Homo sapiens: one gene and its partners. The protein of the gene in region 3 interacts with the protein of the main gene of each other region in a pairwise test. Each region holds a gene or a part of one and is shown on either strand. Other genes may lie near its edges.

Region 1 (7,733 bases), on a different chromosome or scaffold from region 3:
TCCCGAGTAGCTGGGATTACATGGTGGCATGCACCACCACACCTGGCTAATTTTGTATTCTTTTTTAGTAGAGACGGGGTTTCTCCATGTTGGTCAGGATGGTCTCTAACTCCTGACCTTAGGAGATCCCCTTGCCTCAGCCTCCCAAAGTGCTGGGATTACAGGCGTGAGCCACCACACATGGCTTATTTTTTAAATTTTTTCAGATGGAGTCTCACTCTGTGGCCCAGGCTGGAGTACAGTGGTGAGATCTCCGCTCACTGCAACGTCCACTTCCCAGGTTCCAGCTATTCTCCTGCTTCAGCCTTCCAGGTAGGTGGGACTACAGGTGCATGCCACCATGCCTGGCTAATTTTGTAATTTTTTTTTTTTTTAGTCATGACGGGGTTTCACCATGTTGGTCAGGCTGGTCTTGATCTCCTGACCTCAGGTGATCTGCCCGCCTCAGCCTCCCAAAGTGCTGGTATTATAGGTATGAGCCACGGCAATCAGCCATATATATACCTTTTGCAAATAAAATTACACAGGTGGAAAACGTTTTTCTTTTTCTTTTTTTTTTGAGACAGGGTCTCACTCTGTCGCCCAGGCTGGTGTGCGGTGATGCAATCATGGCTCAAGTGATCCTCCCCCATCAACCTCCCTAGTAGCTGGAATTACAGGTGCACACCACATCTGGCTAATTTTGTTTTTGTTTTTGTTTTTGTAGACACGGGGTTTCACCATGTTGCCCAGGCTGATCTCGAACTCCTGACCTCAAGTCATCCGTCCGCCTCGGCCTCCCACAGTGCTGGGATTACTGGTGTGAACCACCACACCCGGCCCGAAAAGGTTTTCAAAATAATAAAATGGGCTGGGCAAGTGGCTCATGCCTGCAATTAGAGGCCTGGAGACATTAAGTAAACCACCCAAGGTCACACAGTAAGGAAGGGGCAGAACTCAGAGTCTCCTGGCTGCAAAGCTGGTGTCCCTTCCCCACTGTGCCTTAACTGCCGCCTTACAGCTGGGTTGGAGGATGCCTCCCTGGTCTAGGGTCATTATTACATTTTCTTCTAAGAAGTGTGTTTCTGATCAACGGAACTGATTATTTTCCATCTATGGTCTTACCCTTTGCCCCCATCTCTTTCTTATGGCAACAGAAAATTTCACCTTCAAGAGGAGCGCCTCGGCCCGGCCGAAGTACCGTCTGGGAAGTGAGGAGCGCCTCGGCCCGGCCGAAGTACCGTCTGGGAAGTGAGGAGCACCTCTGGACGGCCACGGAGCAACCCTCCAGGTGTGAAGTGGCAGCCCTGTGTGTGATCTTTCTGCCCTCCCCGAGTTTTCATTTTCGATAGTAAAATTTACTTGTAAACTAAAAGATTTATATTGGGGAAGATGAAAGGAAGGAAGGAAGGAAACTTCACTTTCCAAAAACAACCACTGGGAGTCCGCTTTGTGCAGCGATAGGTAAGCTTCTGTGCAGGAACGGGCGCTGCTGCACCCCCTACCACCCACGCAGCCTCCTCCCTATCTGCCTTCAGGTGGTAGCCAGAGGAGTTCAGAGCCTCTACAGAGAGCACAACTTCTCCAGCTGGAACTGAAGGGGGCCTGCCCCTCCACACCGGCGGGTATTTCTCGAAAGGTGGAGATGAGAGACTGAGAAAAGAAATAAGACACAGAGACAAAGTATACAGGAAGAAAAGTGGGCCCAGGGGACCGGCGCTCAGCATATGGAGGACCCGCATGGGCACTGGTCTCTGAGTTCCCTCAGTATTTATTGATCACTATCTCTACCATCTCAGCGAGGGGGATGTGGCAGGACTATAGGGTAATGGTGAGGAGAGGGTCAGCAGGAAAACATGAGAGCAAAGGACTTTGTGTCATAAATAAGTTTAAGGAAAGGTGCCGTGCCTGGATGTGCACGTAGGCCAGATTTATGTTTGACTTTATACAAACATCTCAGTGCAGTAAAGAGCAGTATTGCCGCCAGCATGTCTCACCTCCAGCCATAAGGCGGTCTTCTCCTATGTCAGTAAATAGAATGTATGATCGGGTTTTACACCAAGACATTCCATTCCCAGGGATGAGCAGGAGACAGATGCCTTCCTCCTATCTCAACTGCAAAGAGGCTTTCCTCCTTCACCAATCCTCCTCAGCACAGACCCTTTACGGGTGTCGGGCTGGGGGACGGTCAGGTCTTTCCCTTCCCATGAGGCCATATCTCAGGCTGTCTCAGTGGGGGGAAACCTGGACAATACCCAGGCTTTCTTGGGCAGAGGTCCCTGCGGCCTTCCGCAGTGCACTGTGTCTCTGGGTACTCGAGACTGGAGAATGGCGATGACTTTTACCAAGCTTATTGCCTGCAAACACATTTTTACCAAGGCACATCCTGCACAGCCCTAAATCCATTAAACCTTGAGTCAATATAGCACATGTTTCTGCGAGCACAGGGTTGGGGCTAGGGTTACAGATTCACAGCATCTCAAGGCAGAAGAGTTTTTCTTAGTACAGATCACAATGGAGTTTCTTATGTCTTCCTCTTTCTACATAGACACAATAACAGTCTCATCTCTCTTTCTTTCCCCCACAAGAACAAACTCCCCTTAAAGGAATCTATTTAGGAAGATTATTTCAAGGATACAATGTACATTCATTCCTCCAAAATATGCTTAGATGAACTTAAATAATCAGAAAGTTGTGTGTGTATGTGTTTCACATTTTCTTGGTCCACACGGAACCCCTTGAGAGGTCCCTGTGGGCCGTGAGCCTGTTTGTAGACACTTGCTTCCACCGCTTGATGTCGCAGACATCGCAGTCCCTGATGTAGGGTCTGGCCCTATGGGGCTTAGTGGGTGTTCTCCCCGTGTGTGGAGATGAGAAATCGTAAAAAGTAAAGACACAAGACAAAGAGATAAAGCGAAAACAGCTGGGCCCGGGGGACCACTACCATCAAGACACGGAGATGGGTAGTGGCCCCAAATGGTTGCGTGCACTGTTATTTATTGCATACAAGACAAGGGGGGCAGGGTAAGGAGGGTGAGTCGTCCAAGTGATTGATAAGGTCGAGCAAGTCACGTGATCATAGGACAGGGGGCCCTTCCCTTATAGGTAGCCGAAGCAGAGAGGGAAGGCAGTATACGTCAGCGTTTTCTTCTATGCACCTATCAGAAAGATCAAAGACTTTAAGACTTTCACTATTTCTTCTACCGCTATCTTCTGAGAACTTCAAAGAGGGACCAGGAGTACAGGAGGAAAGTGGACAAGGAGCGTGACCATTGAAGCACAGCATCACAGGGAGGGGTTTAGGCCTCCGGATGGCTGCAGGCAGGCCTGGATACTATCCAGCCTCCCACAAGAAGCTGGTGGAGCTGAGCGTTCCCTGACTCCTCCAAGAAAAGGGAGACTCCCTTTCGTGGTCCGCTAAGTAACGATGCCTTCCTAGGCACTGGCGTTACCGCCTGACCAAGGAGCCCTCCAGTAGCCCTTATGCGGGTGTGACAGAGGGCTCACCTCTTGCATTCTCGGTCACTTCTCACAACAGCCCTTCAGCACCTGACCCTATACCCACCGGTTATTTCTTGGTTATATTAGTAATACAATAAAGAGTAATATTAAAAGCTAATGATTAATAATATCTACACTAATGATTGATAATGTCCATGATCATCTCTGTATCTAATTTGTATTATAACTATTCTTATTGTAAGTATATTCTTTATTATACTGAAACAGTTTGTGCCTTCAGTCTCTTGCCTCAGCACCTAGGTAATCCTCCGCCCACATCTCTGAGGGGCTGAACTGCCCCCCACCTTCTGGAAGCTGGGAGGTTGGAAGAGGGGATGCGTGCGATGGACTCAGCACACAGCTGGGAACTCGAGGCACACCTAAGCCTTCGCTTGTGCTGTGCGGAGTCCACACTTCCTTCCCCACTGGGGTCTCAAAACCTCCCCTCACTCAACAGGGTGGTGCTGCTCAAAGCTCTGGGCACACATTAGGGCTGGGGAGGGGGTGGTGGAGAGGGGGCTCCAGCCTGCCCAACCACCAGGCAACGGGGCACCTGCCCCTCTCTCAGCTGGGTCTGGACCCGCGTCCCAGGCTCAGGCTGCAATGCCTTTCTCTTTCTCTTTCTCTTCTTTTTGCAGTTCCGTTGGGTCCTGCCCAGGACAGATAAAGACAGAGCAGCCTGTCTTTATCGGAGGTTCCTCTGCCAGTAGGAGGGGCCCGGAGAAAACCAGAAAGAGGGCCAGAGCCAGAGAAACATGAAGCACCCCGGGGCCTCCCACACCAGTGCCTGAGCAGGAATGGGGAGGGGCCATGATTCACAAGGCCCTGGGAGGTCACTTTAAAGAGGGCTGCTCAACTGCAAGGACGCTGTAAGCAGGAAGAGAAGCCACAGCGCTTCAGAAAAGAGTGGGACAGGGACAAGCATATCTAAGAGGCTGAACATGAATCCACAGATCAGGTACCTCTGCACGCTTTGTCCGCCAGGCCCCTCCTGCCACTTCCTGCCAGGCGGTCCTGCTGGGCCTCAGCCCTGGCCTCCCCCTGCCCCAGCCCCACCTCTGGGCTCCCTCCCCCCTGGTTCCCCCGCTGCCCCCACTCCCAGCCAAGCTCCTTGCCCTGCTGTGTGGTCCCACGACTGCTGCTTCTGAATGGGCCACCTTCCCCACTTGCCCCAGCCCAGTCCGCCTGCTGAGACTCTCCCCCGAAAATCATGCCCGGGCTGGTGCTTCCCGCCCTGGGAGGGTGCTTCCTCTGTGTGCTTCCCACTATTCCTGGGAGCTCTGGAACTGGGAGAATTGAACCAAAGGATGATTTGAGCAATCAGGCATTTTGTTCTCAGCGCTTTGGTGCAATTTCTGTAAGATTTACTTTGTTTCAATACAAAGTCTTAGGAGAGGGTGTGGGGGAGGGAATGGTCTCTGTACCAGAAAATAAGTCACTTCTTCCAAAGATGCCTCCACTGTGAGCAGAGTAGGATGCACACGACCCCAGACACAGGCTCCTCCTCTGTGAGCACCGTTCACCTTTCAGAATGACACCTGCAACATGGAGTGTAGGAAAAAATATGATGATCAGGAGAAATGCTCTTATTTTAGGCCAGGCACGGTGGCTTATGCCTGTAATCCTAGCACTTTGGGAGGCTGAGGCGGGCGGGTCACTTGTGGTCAGGAGTTTGAGACCAGCCTGACTAACATGGTGAAACCTCGTCTCTACTGAAAATACAGAAAATTAGCCAGGGGTGCTGGCGGGCGTCTGTAATCCCAGCTACTTGGGAGGCTGAGGCAGGAGAATCCCTTGAACCCGAGGGGTGGAGGTTGCAGTGAGCTGAGATTGCAAACTCCAGCCTGGGGGACAGAGCGAGATGCCGTCTTTAAAAAAAAAAAAAAAAAAGTAGCAGAAAAACTGGGAGGTTGAGGGTGTTCCATTGGTAGCCCCAGAGCTGGGGTTCCAGCTAGGAGAGGTCACCCCGGCCCTGCTGCCCCTGCCAGCGTCCCCTCCTCTTTCTCTCTCCCCGTCTTCCTGCCTGGGAAAGCAGCAGACATTCTCAGGGCTGTGGAGGGATGGGGGAGGCCCAGAGCCCAGGGACGTCCAGGCAGCTGTGTTCAGTGGGCATCAGCCCTGAGGACTCCGGTGCGGGGGTCTCTGCATTGGGGTTTCTCTCTTGTGCCTTCAGAAACCCGATGAAGGCAATGTATCCAGGCACATTCTACTTCCAATTTAAAAACCTATGGGAAGCCAACGATCGGAACGAAACTTGGCTGTGCTTCACCGTGGAAGGTATAAAGCGCCGCTCAGTTGTCTCCTGGAAGACGGGCGTCTTCCGAAACCAGGTAGCACCAAAGTCCTAGTTACACCCTAAATAGGAGCTAAGCAGCTGGGAATGCAGAAAACGCAACAATAAGTGATGTGCCCGGCGTGGGCTCTCCTGTGTGCACTTTCCTGCCACATTTCTATTTTTTTTTTTTTTTTTTTGAGATGGAGTCTCGCTCTGTCACCCAGGCTGGAATGCAGTGGTCTGATTTCAGCTCACGGCAACCTCTGCTTTCCAGGTTCACGCGATTCTCCTGCCTCAGTCTCCCGAGTAGCTGGGATTACAGGCACCTGCCACCATGCCCAGCCAATTCTTTTGTATTTTTAGTAGAAACAGGATTTTGCCATGTTGGCCAGGCTGGTTTCGAACTCCTGACCTCAAGTGATCCACCAGCCTTGGCCTCCCAAAGTGCTAGGATTACATGCGTGAGACACCATGCCCCTGGCCTCCTCCCCACATTATTTATTTATTTATTTATTTATTTTGAGACGGAGTCTTGCTCTATCGCCCAGGCTGGAGTGCAGTGGCACAATCTCAGCTCACTGCAAGCTCCGCCTCCCGGGTTCACGCCATTCTCCTGCCTCAGCCTCCCAAGTAGCTGGGACTACAGGCGCCCACCACCATGCCCAGCTAATTTTTTCTTTTTTTCTTTTTTTTTTTTTTTTTAGTAGAGACGGGGTTTCATGGTGTTAGCCAAGATGGTCTCGATCTCCTGACCTCATGATCCGCCCGCCTTGGCCTCCCAAAGTGCTGGGATTACAGGCATGAGCCACTGTGCCCGGCCTCCCCACATTTTTTAAGTCCATGGCCCAGATCTTCCTCCCTGACTCTCCTGTGATCAGATCGTGGAGGGGGTTTGCTTCCTCCCAAAAGGCCTTGTTTAGCGCCCAGCACCCTCACTCTTGACTTTGTTTCCCAAAATCTTGTTATGGAGCTGTGCGTCCGGCAGTCCTCGGGAATCAGCAGCTGTGGGAAGCGGGGGGTGTTGTGTCCAGCGCTGTGTCTGGGCCAGTGACTGCGGGCTGGTGGGGCCGCCCCCGCCACTGCCCTGATTCCTCAGCAGAAGGCAGGCAGGGAACAAAGCTGACCCCAGAGAGCCAGGCCATAGCAGGGGCTGAGGATGCCTGGTGAATGGATGCCTGGGAGAAAAGATGGCAGAATTCACACATGAGTCTATGAGACAGGGAAAGAATCAATAAAATAAAGAAGGAAGGGGCCGGGCACGGCGCGGTGGCTCATGCCTGTAATCCCAGCACTTTGGGAGGCTGAGGCAGGCGGATCATGAGGTTGGGAGTTCGAGACCAGCCTGGCTAACATGATGAAACCCAGTCTCTACTAAAAATACAAAGATTAGCCAGGTGTGGGGGTGCATGCCTGTAGTCCCAGCTACTCAGGAGGCTGAGGCAGGAGAATTGCTTGAACCTGGGAGGCAGAGGTTGCAGTGAGCCGAGATTGTGCCACTGCACTCCAGCCTTGGCGACAGAGCAAGACTCCATCTTTGAAAAAAATAAAAATAAAAGAATAAAGAGAGAAGGAGAAGGATAGAAGAAGGGAAACTCAATGAATAAAACACCCTGGGGCCTACTATGTAGCCAGAAAAATGAAAAGTAAAGAAATAAAATAAGGCTGTGCATGTGGTTTATGCTCATAGTCCCAGAGCTTTGGGAGGGTGAGGCAGGAGGATCGCTTGAGCCCAAGAGTTCAAGATCAGCCTGGGCAACATGGTGAAACCCCGTCTCTAAAAAAATTATTTAAAAAATTAGGCAGGTGTGGCGGCATGCACCTGCATCCCAGCTTATCAGGAGGCTGAGGTGGGAAGATTCCTTGAGCCTGGGAGGTCAAGGCTGCAGTCAGCCCAGATCCCACCACTGCACCCCCTAACCTGTGCACCAGAGAGAGACCCTGTCTCAAAAATGAGTAAATAAGGAAACGGCCCGGGGCT
Region 2 (7,703 bases), on a different chromosome or scaffold from region 3:
AGTACAGCCGAGTTCTTCTCCTCACTGAGCTGTGCCAGGCGCATGGCGATCATGTAGTTCTCATCCTTGAGCCGCAGCAGCTCCAGGCTGCCCGCCTCCCAGTCCTCCCGCAGCCGTTGACAGCGCTCCTGAGCCTGCTGCTGGTCCCGCAGCCGCTGCTCCAGCCCTGCCCGCTCCTCCTCGAGCACCCGGCCCCGGGCCTGCAGTTGCTGCTCCCGCTGCAGCTGGCTCTTGCGAGCTTCCCGCAGCCGTCGCACCTCTGTCATCAAGAATTGGGTCAGGCCCTCAGGCCCCTCCTCATCTGCCAGGACAGAACAGGGGACAGAATAGGCAGCTCAGGCAAGTAAAATCCAGGAGATAACATACTGTGTCAAAAAACTCAAACCATAAAAACACTAGAGGGAAATTCTGGAATATATTTGTAGAATTGGGAGCAGGGGAGGTCTTCCTAAACAACACACAAAATCCAGGAGTTATAAGAGAAAAAAGATGGACAAATCCATATAAAAATGTTTAAACCTTTGAAAAATGAAAGATGTAACAAAGTTAATAAGCAACAGAGTGGGAGAAAATATAACAAGAACTCAGAGCCGTAATATATAAAGAGCTCCTACAAATCAATAAGATCAACAACCAAATAAAAATATGGACAAAAACTATCAATAGGCAAGTCCCAAAATAAAAATAGTTAATAAATACAGGAAAATATGCACCAACCTATCAACAATAATTACAGTAGCTACTAATATTTGTTAACTTCATTCTTTGTGCTAGATATATCTTAATCTTTATGACAACACTGTAAGGTAGGTACTATTATTGTACCCATCTTAAAGACAGAAAAACTGAAGCACAGAGCAGTTATTTACCCAAGGTTTAATAACTAGTAACCTGTGAACTGTATCACTCAATGAAATATAAACTTAAAACAATAACATTATTTTTTACATATCAGAATGGTAAAAACGTTTAAACATGATCCCCAGGATTCAAATGGGCCCTTACACATTCCTGGTAGGAGGTATGTTGATTTAACAGTTAAAATACACAGACTCTTTGAGAAATTCTTCTCAGAACCTCTTCGCCTGAGACACATTTGCACAAAGACGCACATACAAGGATGTTCCCGTATCGTTGTAATAATACAAAACTGGAAACCTAGGTATCCATCAACTGGAAATGGGTTAAATGAATTATGTCCTAACTTCACTAATGAACAGTATGCAGTCACTTAAAACAAGTGTATGTAACAGAGGTGAAAGAATCACTAAAATCAGTTGTTCTAAGAAAAAGCAAAATACACACGTAGGCGTGTGTGCGTGTGTGTATGTGTTTGTGTTTTTTATATAAAAAAATTCAGCTAGGCGCAGTGGCTCACGCCTGTAATCCCAGCACTCTGGGAGGCCGAGGCAGGCGGATCACAAGGTCAGGAAATCAAGACCATCCTGGCCAACATGATGAAACCCCATCTCTATTAAAAATAAAAATACAAAAATTAGCAGGGCGTGGTGGCCCATGCCTGTAATCCCAGCTACTCGGGAGGCTGAGGCAGGAGAATCGCTTGAACCTGGGAGGCGGAGGTTGCAGTGAGCTGAGATCGCGCCACTGCACTCCAGCCTGGTGACAGAGCAAGACACTGTCTCAAAAAAAAAAAAATTCAAAGTCACCTGGAGCCTCTGTATTTTTTTACATAAAAAACTATACATCTGTGTATGTCAGACATATGTCTGAAAACAGTATCACGAAGAAAGAGCCATCTTAAGCATGTGGCTCTGAACTTGGAATAACGGCACTAGCACCCAGCCCCACCCTCAGCCTACCGTGGGGCCCTGGGCAAGCCCCTTCAGCCTCTCCATGCCTCAGTTTCCCTTACTGTTCAACAGGCATAGTGGGAGCGCCTCCCTAACAGGGATGGGGAAAGGAGCCTGTGCACTGGAGTCCGAGGTGCCAGCATCCACCGCAGATCCACTCACCGAGGATCATGGAGCAGCGCTGGGCGGGTTCCTGGCCCGTGAGCAGCGTGAAGTGTTCGGGGTAGTAGAACTCCAGGGCTTCCAGGAAGGCCTCATAGCCCCTCTTGCCACGGCAGCGCAAGATGTCCATCAGGCGCCCTACAGAGTAGTGGGGGGATGTACCCAGGGTCTAGGGGAAGGCCTCCCCAGGTGCCTGGTTGCTTCTGCCCCCACCATGCTCCAGGCCCACGTTCCCCAGATTTTTGAGCCAGTGACACACACAGGGGCCTGTCCCAACACATCAGGGAAGAGAAGAGAGCCATTCTGCCACAGCCAGGGGAGCACATTCCCTCATGACTCCTGGGCTCCCAGAGCTCCCCAACACCCCCCACAGACACAGATGCCGGCCCGCAAATGCAGCCTGCCTTTTCAATGGCACAGAGAAGCCCCCTCTATCCCCAGAAGCAAAGAAAATACTTCTCCCATTGGCCATGCCTGAAATTCCACCATTAAAGACCATTCCATCATGCCTTTTTGAGTTCTGGTTCAAAGGCACACCCTGTGGGAGTGGGGACCCACGTAAAGCTGAGACGGATCTTGACACTTGAAAAAGGACTCCCCCAGGAGTGTATGGTGCACAGAGGAGGGGACAGACAGAACTCGGAGATCAAAGAGCGCAGGAAAGGTGCCAAGTCCACCGGCTGTGACCGGGAGGTCCCAGGCCCAGCCGGCCCTGGCAGCCACATCCAACCTTCTGCTCTAATGTGGACCCAGGAAGTGGGAGAGAACCCCAAGAGACAAAACTCTGACCCCGGTGTGGGCAACGCGGACCGCCAAGGCGCAGTGGTGGGTGGGGAGGAGGCAGGCTGGTGGGCATACCCAGCCGGCCCACTCTACTGATGCGGAGACCGAGCCCCAGGGCAGCAGAGCCCTAGCTTCGCGCTACACGGCTGTGGGCGCTGCGCCCCAGGGCACGGCCGGCCCAGGTCGTGGCCCACTCGGGACCCGCGGCTCACCGGTGCGGTTGACGCGGCACGGGAAGCGGTAGGTGCTCAGCACCTCCTCCTCGTCCTGCTCGTCGATGACCCGGCACTGGCGCAGATACGGCGTGAGCTTGGCCGGGTTCAGGGCGCGAGCCAGCCGATGCCGGACGCCCTCGATTCGCTCCCACAGCGCGTCCTCCTCCGCCTCAGACCCCGAGCCGGCCCCGGCCTCCTCCTCGGCCTCCCCCGCCTCCGCCCGGCCCGGCATGGCCGTGTCCTCAGGGTCTGCGGGCAAGAGGCGCACGGGGGTCGACCAGGGCTCCCTAGGGCTAGATGTGCGGCCAAGCACCCCCGGGGCGTCGTCCGCAGACCCGCCGTCGGGGGCGCGCCCCGAGCTCCCCGCGACTCACCCCGCACGCTACAGTCGCCTCGGGCTCCCGGGTCCGCACTCGGGCGGCGGCTCCGCCGGCGCAGGGGGGCGGTGCCCGTGGCGCCCCCGGCTCCGCCCCCGTCCCCGCAGCCTCCTGGGCTGCCCGGGCCTCCCCACATTGCCGCCCGCCCCGGGTCGTGCGTCCGGCCCCCGGCCACCCCGCGCGTCCGTCTGCACGCCCTCCCTCCCGGCCGTCCGGCTGCGCCTCCCCCTGCTTCCTGTTTCCCGCCGGCTCTCCAGCCCGGCTCGGCGGGGTCCTGGCCGCCCGCCCACACCTGCCCGGCCTCTGGGCGGGGCGGGGGCGGGCAGGCGCGCTCACACCCCCCGCGCGCCGCGACACACCTTCCCCGGGCCACGCGCATCGCCTCCCCACGCCCACAGCGCGCCCGCCCGTGCGGGGCTAGCCGCTCACGCCCGGCGCAGCCCGCGGGCACTCAAGCTGGGCTTGCCCTTCTCGGGTCCCCACATGCACTGCGGGCGCGGGAGCTTCCCTGGAGCGCAGGACAGCCCCGCGGGGGACAGCAATGGGCAGAGGTCATGGGGGCTTTCTGCAAGATGGGGGTCTGAACCTGCAGGGCAGCACTGCCAACTCCCCTCTTACGCAAACTCCCGTGGCACTTGAGGACCAGGGACCCCACAATTCTCAAAGGGTATTCCTCCAGGTGTTGGTCCCAGAGATGCTGGGGGCGGGCTGTGACTAGCCATCCATACTCCCGCTCCTGCCTGGGAGGCCGGTGGTGTCTTACCATGATACTGGCCGAGTCTACACGGTATCTGCTGGTGCATGCGATACAGTCTCGCTATGCATTAGAAGCTGCCAGGTACCTGCTGCCAGGGAGGAACAGAGGAGGCACAACCGGTACAGGAAAGAGGTGTGAGCTCCCTAATCGCCTTCCACAACTTCTGAATTAGATGCCGTGGACATATGTATTACTTATCCAAAGAATTAAGGTTTCAATCAATAAAGGCTCTGAAAAGCCCTGCTTAAATTAAGGCCGGGGGCGGTGGCTCATGCCTGGAATCCCGACACTTTGGGAGACCGAGGCGAGTGGATCACCTGAGGTCAGGAGTTCGAGACCAGCCTGACCAATATGGCGAAACCCCATCTCTACTAAAAATATAAAAATTAGCTAGACGTGGTAGTGCGCGTCTGTAATCCCAGCTACTCGGGAGGCTGAGGCACGAGAATCGCTTGAACCCAGGAGGCGGAGGTTGCAGTGATATCGTGCCACTGCACTCCAGCAGCCCGGGCAACAGAATGAGACTCCCCCTCAAAAAAAAAAAAAAAAAAAAAAAAAGCCCCAGCAGTAAAGAAACAGATTTAACTTTATATATCCTGGTGTCCTTTTCCAAACTTAATTAACCACAGCCTTTTTTTGGTTTGCATTTGTTGTACATTTGTTTTTGTTTTGGGTGTCACCTGTTTACATGCAGAAGAAATGCTTTGGGAGAACTGAATTCTAGTGCAAATTCCTCAATTAACAAAGGAGGAAGCAGAGCTCAGAGAGGGCAAGGAACTTGCCCAAATTCACACAGCGAGGCCACAATGGGAATAGGCCGGAGCCCAGCCCCTGGCCTCTGTCCTCTCCAAGCCCCGAGTCCAGGCACACACCAGACCTCCCTTTCAATACGTCCTTCCCCTCTCTGTGGCCTTGGTTGCCCTCCCACGCAGAGCGGCAGCTCCTCCCACCAGCAGCCCTACTCCTCGTGAATATTTTTAACTTGGCCAGCAGAGCGGGATGGACGCCTTGGAAAATGAGGCTATGGTTAATTATTTTTTCATCGAGAAGCTAAGCAGGGCCTAAAGATAAGGCACAGAAGCCAAGAGGTCTCTGCAGATAAGTGGACAGAGAAGTGAGGGCACACTGGGTCTGAACAGGCAGGTAGCTGGGTACACCGAGTGCCCCTGGTGCCCAGCATTCCAGGGGAAGCGACAGAGTTCCTTTGGGTACCACACTCCCACATTCACATGTACAATTATACAGGCATGCACACGCACCATCACATACACATGCACACATACACACCCACCCACTGTGGGCATCAAGCCAGGCAGGAGGCAGACAGGGGCGTACCCACTTCCCCACAAACATCTGAGCCTCCTCATCTTTCCCCTGTCCCCGGGCGTCCATAGCACCGAGTGTGCAAGCGTGTGATTAGGTACCATGTTCATTATTGTCCTCTTGTGAGTTCTGCTACATTCATCTTCTCTCTATAGCTATGCCAGGAAGGCGGGCAGGGACTACAGCAGGGACACCGAGAATCTAGACTTTGTACCAGGGGCCCTGGGTTCTATCGCGGGCTCACCGCTATGAGTATTGTTCTTCTTTGAGTCTCCATTTCCCTGTCTGCAAAAGGCAGGCGGTGAGTAGTCCCAGCCACACCTACAAAGGCAGACAGTCCAGGAGTGGAGGGTGCCCTGGAGACCAACATTCAGCCTTAGCTGCATCTACTCGGACAAATTCCTCCCCCTCTCAACTTCTACATCTGAAAAGTGGACAATAGTCCCCCATGTGCAGGGACTGCCTCTGAGTTGCAGTCTCTCCATATGTGAAGTGGGTACAGGAATGTCAGTCCTCTTCCCAACTCATCAAAAGGCATGCCTCCATGTTTCAAACCAGTCTGCGTCCTACTGCCTGTAGCCCCACTGGTCCAAGCCACACATGCCCCCACAAACTCCCACCCACAGTGCTATGGGCTATGGTATGTTCTCCACTCTGCAGCCTTAATGATGTTTGTTTGGTTTGGGAGGTTTTTCTTAGACAAGGTCTGGCTCTGTCACCCAGCCTAGGGTGCAGCGGCCCAATCATAGCTCACTGCAGCCTTGAACTCCTGGGCTCAAGCAATCCTTCTGCCTCAGCCTCCCACATAGCTGGGACTGCACATATGCACCACCATGCCCGGCTACTTTTTTTACCCTTGGTAGAGAGGGGTCTTGCCACGTTGCCTAAGCTGGAAAGAATGATGGTTTTAAAAACATAACAGGTTTTTCTCTGGCTTAAAACCTCTTAATGGTTTCCACCAAACTGGAATAAAATGCAAACTGCCCCCAGACCCTGCTGGCTCCCCCGCCTCCCACTTCCCACTGCCCCACTCGCTCACTAGTCTCATTCTGTTCTTGGAACCTGTCAGCTTCTTCCACATCAAGGCCCTTGTCCACCCTGTTGCCTCTGCTGGGACTGCTCATCCCTCCACTCCTGGTACGGAGGGTTCCTTCTAGCTTTTCAGGTCTCAGATCAAATTCCCCCTCCCTTGATTCAGGAGCACCCTCCAGCAGGGAGTTCCATACACCCCATCCAAGCAATTCTGTGCTACGTAGGGGCCAAAGGACAGCTTCTCCTTCTCCCTCTAGAGGTTTGCCGGAAATGCACTGACAATAGGCAGATAAATAGAAGAAAAAAAGCATAAAAAATGTATTTAACATGCCTAGCACAGGGGAATCATAGGAGAATGATTACCCAGTTATCCATTGAGGTCCAGATGTTTATATCCGCTTCTTCGCTGGGGAAGGGGAGACGGGGCTGTAGGAGTGAATGACTGTTAGGAGGCATTAATGGGCCTGGGAGGCAGACATTATCTTACAGATGATTTTCTTTGGAAATTGAGTGGGACCGAAGAAGAAACACTCATTTGGGACAAAGTTTGTCTGGACTCTAGATGTGGTGTTTAATTTTCTCTTCCTCTGTGATATGAATTTTAATCTCCAGTTAATGAAATTTCAGGGAAGGGATCGAAAGCAATCGTGTTCCTCTTTGGGGTCCAGTTTCTAGCAGATAAGGGAACTTCGGAGAACAGCCTCCTCCTGTGCTTTGGGAGAGACAGAGGATTGACAGAGAGGATGGGGGAAAGGTTGGCAGAGAGACCTTGAGGTTGCGTCTTTATTCAGCCTATCAAAGCGCCTTATTTGGCAGGTATCACTTTCTGAGCCCCGAGAGCTATTTCCTCTCTATCTGACATTTTCCTGGTGCTTGCTTTGCTGCACCAGGAAAATGTCAGCAACCTGTTTGTTGCCTACTTCCATCCCAAGAACAGAGCCGTCCTTGGCTAGCAGGAGTGAGCTGGAATGTTCCAAGAGTGGTGAGGATGAGGAGTGGAGCAGGGGAGGAGAGGAGGTTGAAGGAGGATTGGAAGGGGGGCAGACAGAGCAAAGGCCTTGAAGATCATTATGAGGACTTTGGCCTTTACTTTTCTTGGTAGTAATACGCCGCTATCATTGTCTTCCACAAATCAGCCACAAAGGCCACAGAAGCAGGGATCCACCTTTTTGTTCATTCCTTCAAGGATGCCCCTGGCCCAAGCAACCCTTCCGTTCCTCTTTGTCAGCCTCTGATTGCATCC
Region 3 (7,452 bases):
AGCTGATTTTTGTTTTTGTTTTTGTTTTGAGATGGAGTTTTGCTCTTGGTTGCCCAGGCTGGAGTGCAATGGCATGATCTCGGCTCATCGCATCCTCCACCTCCTGAGTTCAAGCAATTCTCTTGCCTCAGCCTCCTGAGTAGCTGGGACTACAGGCGTGCACCACCACACCCGGCTAATTTTGTGTTTTTAGTAGAGACGGGGTTTCCCCATGTTGGTCATGGCTGGTCTCGAACTCCCAACCTCGGGTGATCCGCCTGCCTCGGCCTCCCAAAGTGCTGGGATTACAGGCATAAGCCACTGCACCCGGCCTGATTTTTGTATTTTTAGTAGAGACGGGGTTTCACCATGTTGGCCAGGCTGGTCTCAAACTCCTGACCTCCGGTGATGTGCCTGCCTCACCCTCCCAAAGTGCTGAGATTACAGGTATGAGCCACCGCGCCCACCTATATCTGATGTTTTATAGACACTGAGATTATGATGTCCCTTGACTTCTGCCCCCAGCCCTGACACCTATTTTGTCACTCTTAAAGCACCCTGTTTGTTGTGGTGCCCATCTGAGCCAAGCATGTGAGGGGATTGGTTGCTTTGTTATACCACGTTTTTCTGGAGTGATCTACCACCTTTGGTCACCTGGTTGGTTTCTGTATCCCTGTCACAGTATCTTCTTTTTGATGCTCCAGAAGACTGCGAACCCTATCCTGTACAGGACCAAATGTGTCAGGAAAGCTCTTGCCCCGCTCCCCCTTTTTCCCAGCTGTTTGGGTGTGTGTCAGATACCTTTGCTTACCTTGTCCTGTTACGTTCCAGCACCAGCCCCACTACCCCAAGCATCCCCTTCTCACTTGATGACAAGTCTTCCTTCAGCTGCTCAGACCAGATCCCTAGGCCACTGTTGACTCAGTTTGTCCAGAACTGACCACTTCCATGCCTCCCCTTCAAATACCTGGTTGAACCTGGTGCCACATTGGGGCACTAGGGCTGCCTAAGGGTGGGGTGAGGGGAGTCTTATTGTCACCCTGGTGGCCAAGGCTTTCTTAATTGGGAGGGTGTTTGGGGAAGCAGCTTGGCCTGATGCCTGTATCCCCCACATGACTTGCGGACAGTCTGGTACTTGTGTGAGGGCCTCAGGTATAGAACACACAGAGCCTTGGTGAGCTGGTATCCTTGTGTATGGCAGGACCATGGGCCGGGACCAGGGTGCAGCAAGTGCCTTGCACCTGGTGTTCAGAGAGCCCAGTACTAGCTGGGCAGGCCCAGGAACTGTGTGTTCAGGGCCTGGACAGGCTCCTGAACCATAGGGTCAGAGTTCATGGGGGAGGCAAGGCAGACCAAGGCTGCAACAGTAGCAGCTCCTTGCACCTGACCTCAGTGTGCCCCTCAGTGACTCTGAATGAGGCCCAGGGATCCCCTGAGGGCCCCCTAGGAAGTTACGGTCTCAAGGCCATGCCCCTCACTTGCCCCCTCCTCTTCCTCAGCCCCATAGGCTCCTTCAATTTCCGTGATCCTCGGAGTCCCCAGGAGACCAGGTGATGGCAGCAGCCAGACTCCTGCCAGTGCCGGCAGGACCCCAGGTAAGCTGTCCCCAGTGCTTATGCAGTGCCCCCAGCCCGAGCCCTGTGGTTCCTTCCGTGCCCCGTAGAGCTCCTAAGAGCAGCCAGAGCGTCACCACATGCCCTGAACTCCGCGGCCCCTTCCCATCACCCACCTCAGCTCACAGAGCCCCCCACTGCCAACTGCTCATGTCACATGTCACATGCACCCACTCCCCATCACAGACATCAGGATTTGGTTTTACCTGCAGCAGCCCCTGTCGTTCCAGGCCAAGCTGACCTTCGAGGATGTGGCTGTGCTCCTCTCCCAGGATGAATGGGACCGCCTGTGCCCTGCTCAGAGGGGTCTCTACAGAAATGTGATGATGGAAACCTATGGGAATGTAGTCTCATTGGGTAAGCCACCTTAGCAGGCCTCGTCTATGTATCTGCGTATTGGACTGGGGTGGGGGCTTCTCAGGGTACGGGGCCTGGGACAGGCTGGTCCTGGAGGTTTGCTCTCATCACCTCTCTGGGTGCTCAGCTCCAGCAGAAGATCAGTCCTGTCCATTTTCATGTCCCCACAAGTGGCTTGGGCAGGGGGAGGGGGCTCTGTAAATGTTGTGTAAACAAAGACTTCCCTCCCCACGAGCAGGACTTCCAGGATCCAAGCCTGACATAATCTCCCAGCTGGAGCGAGGGGAAGATCCCTGGGTCCTGGACAGGAAGGGGGCTAAGAAGAGCCAGGGCCTGTGGAGTGACTACTCAGGTGAGTGAGGAGAGCTGGCCCCTCCCTCACTGAGGGCTAAACAGGTCCTGAGCAAAGCTGTGGACCTAGTTCATACTGTGCCGCTCACTGGAGTGGCTTCCACCTGGAGTAAAACCTTATCTGGCCTTATCTGGCAAAGGAGTCTATAGACTGGGGGTTGCTGAATCAGGTGGCAGCCCATGGCTGGAAGTGAGCATAGCAGTGAATTTCAACAAGCTGATGTGCAGAGCCATGTAGAGGAAGTTAGGGCATGGCTGCAGTGATTCTGTCCCTGACCAGAGGGACTGGTTAGCCAGATTTGGTCCTAATAGGACATTCAGGTTTTGAGAGTTACCTGATGATTTAGAAAATAACAAAGCATCCTAAATGTGGAAAGGAAGTGTCTCAACCTGACACTTAAGGTGAAGTGCTGAAAGCACACTGTTTCATCTCAGAACAAGACAAAGAAGCCCGCCATCCCCATGTCCATATAATGTTGTACTGGGTATCCCATGTACAAAATAAGGCAAAACCGGCCAGGCGTGGTGGCTCAAGCCTGTAATACCAGCACTTTGGGAGACTGAGGCGGGTGGATCACGAGGTCAGGAGATCAAGACCATCCTGGCTAACACGGTGAAACCCTGTCTCTACTAAAAATACAAAAAATTAGCCGGGCATGGTGGCATGCACCTGTAGTCCCAGCTACTCGGGAGGCTGAGGCCTGTAGTCCCAGCTACTCCCAGATTCATGGCGTGAACCCGGGAGGCAGAGGTTGCAGTGAGCTGAGATCGCTCCACTGCACTCCAGCCTGGGGGACAGAGCATGAGACTCTGTCTCAAAAAAATAAAAATAAAAATAAGGCAAAACCAAAGCTATAAGAATTAGAAAGAAAAAAGCATTGTTTGCAGTTTATGTGATTGTCAACCTGGAAAATGATTGATTAAAATTCACAAGGGAAATTACCAGTTTTGCTGGATACAATTTTTTTTTTTTTTTTTTTTTTTTTGAGACAGTCTTGCTCTGTCGCCCAGGCTGGAATGCAGTGGCATGAGTCTCGGGTCACTGCAAGCTCCGCCGTCTGGGTTCAAGCAATTCTTACGCCTCAGCTTCTCGAATAGCTGGGATTACAGGTCCATGCCCCTATACCCAGCTAATTTTTGTATTTTTAGTAGAGACAGGATTTCACCATGTTGGCCAGGCTAGTCTCGAACTCCTGACCTGAAGTGATCCACCTGCCTCAGCCTCCCAAAGTGCTGGTATTACAGGCATGAGCCACTGCACCTGGCCAGAAATGTTTTATTTATATTTGTCAGCAACCAGCAAAGGTGTAATATTTTAAAAGATAACATTTATAATAGCATCAGGAATATAAAGCATCCAAGAATTAATCTAACAAAAGATGTACAAGACCTTTAGATGGAGAAAATTATAAAAAGAAAGATGGTGCATAGATCCAACCCTGAAGTTCATGTTTGCGGTTGCTTAAGGCAAAGAACCTCTGACTTCAGTAAGGTGACGTCTGAGTCTTAGGAAAACCTCAGTCAGCCTGTCCTGCCATAATGTGCCCCACTTGGGGAGAGTAGGGACAGTTTGGGCAACACCTCCATTGGCTGATCAGCTTCAGCATTTCAGATGTGGTGGTTTTCCCCTTGAAAGCTCCTCCTTATTTCTAAAGTAGCTTTATGTGGATAGGGCACCAGGTATTACAGTCTACCTCTTACTGGCCTGCAAAATCAGATATCCTCAGAGGAACAAGGTACATGCCAGCCTTAGAGGAATTTAATTTTCCAGTGACTATACAAGAAGACACATCATCATGTCTTGGAAATCTTGCATAGAACTTCTGCTTACTGACTGCAGCTGTAGGAGACAAGAAAACACAGGAGGGCATTTTGCTGCCACTGCCAAACCAGTCCTGGGCTCCCTTGTGTCCAGCTATGTACTCGCCTGATGGAGAGCTTAAACTGCCTTTGAGCGCCCTTTGATTTGACACCACAGAGACTGTGAAATTCTCTGGGAGCATGGCTGGTTGGAGATGAGAAGTTTTTTCATGGAAGCACCTGGTCCCCTCACCTCTAACACAGGCCACAGAGGACGATGGGACTGAGTTTTAGATTACTGATGTGCATAGAAACAGAAGCCACCTGCCACAACCTGGATCACTGCCACTAGCATCAGAGCAAGCGAGGAGTAGATATGCCTTTGTCTTGTCCTGGCAGTTCCTCAGGATGGATAAGTGTGTGCACCTGCCCAGCCCTGACCCTGCTGTTTGTAACTCAGTAAATTACATGTTGTAATAGCAACGAAAGGATTTTCCACTCTTTTTTTTTTTTTTTTTTTTTTTTTTTTGAGAGACGGAGTTTCACTCTGTCCCCCAGGCTGGAGTGCAGTAGTGTGATCTCGGCTCACTGCAACTTCTTGTCTCCGGGGTTCAAGCGATTCTCCTGCCTCAGCTTCCCTAGTAGTGGGGACTACAGGCATGCACCACCATGTCCAGCTAATTTTTGTATTTTTTAGTAGAGACGGGGTTTCACTATATGTTGGCCAGGCTGGTCTCAAACTTCTGACCTCAAGTGATCCACTCACCTTGGCCTCCCAAAGTGCTGGGATTACAGACGTGAGCCACCATGCCCGGCCAGGATTTTCCACTCTTGAAGGGAGTATTTTGTTGTCACTTCAACTCGCTGTTTTTTTTCCAGACAACCTCAAATATGACCACACTACAGCCTGTACACAACAAGACAGTTTATCTTGTCCATGGGGTAAGTGTATGCCTGATCTTTTTAATTCAGTACAATCTCTGAAGGTGTTAACACTAATGTTTTACAAGAATGTAGAGGCGACTCGGTGCTATGAAGCGTGTTAAACAACTCACACAATTGCTACAAAACACCAGGGAGGGGCTTTTTGTGTTTTTAATTTTTAAAACATTTTTCCTTTTCTTGTGAGCCATAGTAGGCCTAGAGAGATTACTGGGTTTTTATAATTAAACATTTATTTCGGTGAAATCATTTTGTTTCCTTTTATTTGTTCCGTCATGCTTAAAACATACTTCCCTACTTTATACTTAACAACCAAAACCATTATTCTAAAAGCAAGTGACTCTTGGCTGAAGTCCAGCTTCTGCACAGTATGGATGCAAGGTGCAGGCAAGTTTGGCCTTCACAGCAACTTGATTCTGTCTCACAAGCAGTCATATGATGCTTTCGTGCCATGGATGATTGAGCGAGTAGTCTCTTATGCAGTTAGTTTAGTGTGTGTGTGTGTTTTCTTTTTTTCAGGCTGGAGTGCAGTGTAGAGACAGAGTCTTGCTGTGTTGCCCAAGCTGGTCTCAAACTCCTGGGCTCAAGCAATCCTCCTGCCTCAGCCTCCCAACATGCTGGGATTACCGGCATGAGCCACTGTGCCTGGCCTGTGTTTTTATTATTAAAGACATCTTGTCTATCTTGTTACCCTGGCATCAGGTCAGAAGCCGCCCATTCAGGAAACTTTTTTTTTTTTTTTTTAGACAGGCTCTCACTCTGTTGCCCAGGCTGGAGTGCAGTGGCATAATCACGGCTCACCAGTCTCAACCTCCTGGACTCAAGCAATCCTCCCACAACAGCTTCCCGAGAGTAGCTATAACCACAGGTGTACACCACCATGCCCAGCTAATTTTTGTAGAGACGGGGTTTCACCATGTTGCGCAAGCTGGTCTCAAACTCCTGGCCTCAAGTGATCCTCCCACCTTGCCCTCCCGAAGTGCTGGGATTACAGACATGAGCCACCACACCGGGTGAAACTTCAGACAATAGAAGTAATACTTTTCAGTGTAAATGAGTAACTATTTCTTTAGCCTATAGGCTTTTATTCCATGAAGATGAGGCTTATACATTAAAAAAAGAAAGAACTAAAACTTCTATCAGTTTAAAAAACACATAGCCAGCTTAGGCAAGATACTGAGACCCCACACTACAAAATAAAATTAAAAATTAGCCAGACATGATGGTGCATTCCTGTAATCCCAGCCACATGGAGGCTGAGACAGGAGGATTCCTTGAGCCCAGGAGGTTGAGGTTGCAGTAAGCCATGATCACACCACTGCACTCCAGCCTGGGTGATAGAGTGAGACCCTGTCTCAAAAAAAAACCCACATAGAGTGACTTTCTAAAATGAGATATGTTAAAAATTGTATTAAACTGGGCCGGGGGTGGTGGCTCATGCCTGTAATCTCAGCACTTTGGGAGGCCGAGGCAGATGGACCACCTGAGGTCAGGAGTTTGAAACCAAGCTGGCCAACATGGTGAAACCCCATCTCTACTAAAAATACAAAAAATTATCTGGGCATGGTGGCACATGCCTGTAATCCCAGCTACTTGGGAGGCTGAGGCAGGAGAATCGCTTGAACCTGGGAGGCAGAGGTTGCGGTGAGCTGAGATCGTGCCATTGCACTCCAGCCTGGGCAACAAGAACGAAACTCTGTCTCAAAAAAATTGTATTAAACTGAAGACAGTGAATTTAAATTTTTTTATTAAAAAAACTGTTAAATTCTCACTGTTTCAATTTGTCAATACACTTAATAAATTCCTCTGAATAGAATAAAAAGACGCAGAATTACCCAAAAAGAAAAGTAGGCACAAATTTCTGCATAGATTAGGAAAACCAAAGGGCCAATAAATAAGAAAACTGCTCAGCCTCATTATTCATCAGTAAAGTGGAAATCAAAACCACTGTGACATGATGTTACACCTTCAGAATGGAAAAAATGGAAAGATCTGACAATATAACATGTGGGTGAGGATGCAGGGCAGCTAATAGGGATGTAAATTCACATAGCCACTTTGGAAAAGTTTGGCATTATCCAATGAAATTGAAAACATGATCACATTCTGAGAGAATGGAGGTAAAAAAAATGAAAAAAAAAATCGAAAACATGAATTCCTATGTTCACCACTTCCCACTCTTGCATATGTATACAGCAAGGACATTTGTGTGTAAGCACCAGGAAACATAGGAGAATCTTCACAGAAGCATGCTTCATGATTTAAAAAAACATTTGAAAAGAATTCAGGACCGGGCGCCGTGGCTCCTGCCTGTAATCCCAGCACTTTGGGAGGCCGAGGTGGGTAGATCACGAAGTCAGGAGTTTGAGGCCATCCTGGCCAACATGGTGAAACCCTGTCTCTACTGAAG

The links. Proteins that work in one complex are often made in the same cells at the same time.
Region 1: the proteins of ZNF250 (region 3) and APOBEC3C interact in binary tests that used the Homo sapiens proteins (3 or more experiments, as listed by UniProt).
Region 2: the proteins of ZNF250 (region 3) and CARD10 interact in binary tests that used the Homo sapiens proteins (3 or more experiments, as listed by UniProt).

What each region holds. Positions count from the first base shown.
Region 1 is NC_000022.11:39,009,942-39,017,674, forward strand, and holds the start of APOBEC3C (DNA dC->dU-editing enzyme APOBEC-3C), read left to right. Parts: upstream 1-4,315; 5' UTR 4,316-4,421; coding exon 4,422-4,438; intron 4,439-5,653; coding exon 5,654-5,810; intron 5,811-7,733.
Region 2 is NC_000022.11:37,515,998-37,523,700, forward strand, and holds the start of CARD10 (caspase recruitment domain-containing protein 10), read right to left. Parts: upstream 3,419-7,703; 5' UTR 3,204-3,418; coding exon 2,969-3,203; intron 2,112-2,968; coding exon 1,974-2,111; intron 302-1,973; coding exon 1-301. UniProt on the Homo sapiens protein: Scaffold protein that plays an important role in mediating the activation of NF-kappa-B via BCL10 or EGFR.
Region 3 is NC_000008.11:144,884,430-144,891,881, reverse strand, and holds part of ZNF250 (zinc finger protein 250), read left to right. Parts: intron 1-1,478; 5' UTR 1,479-1,532; coding exon 1,533-1,574; intron 1,575-1,807; coding exon of another isoform or gene 1,808-1,822; coding exon 1,823-1,949; intron 1,950-2,187; coding exon 2,188-2,301; intron 2,302-4,979; coding exon 4,980-5,042; intron 5,043-7,452. UniProt on the Homo sapiens protein: May be involved in transcriptional regulation.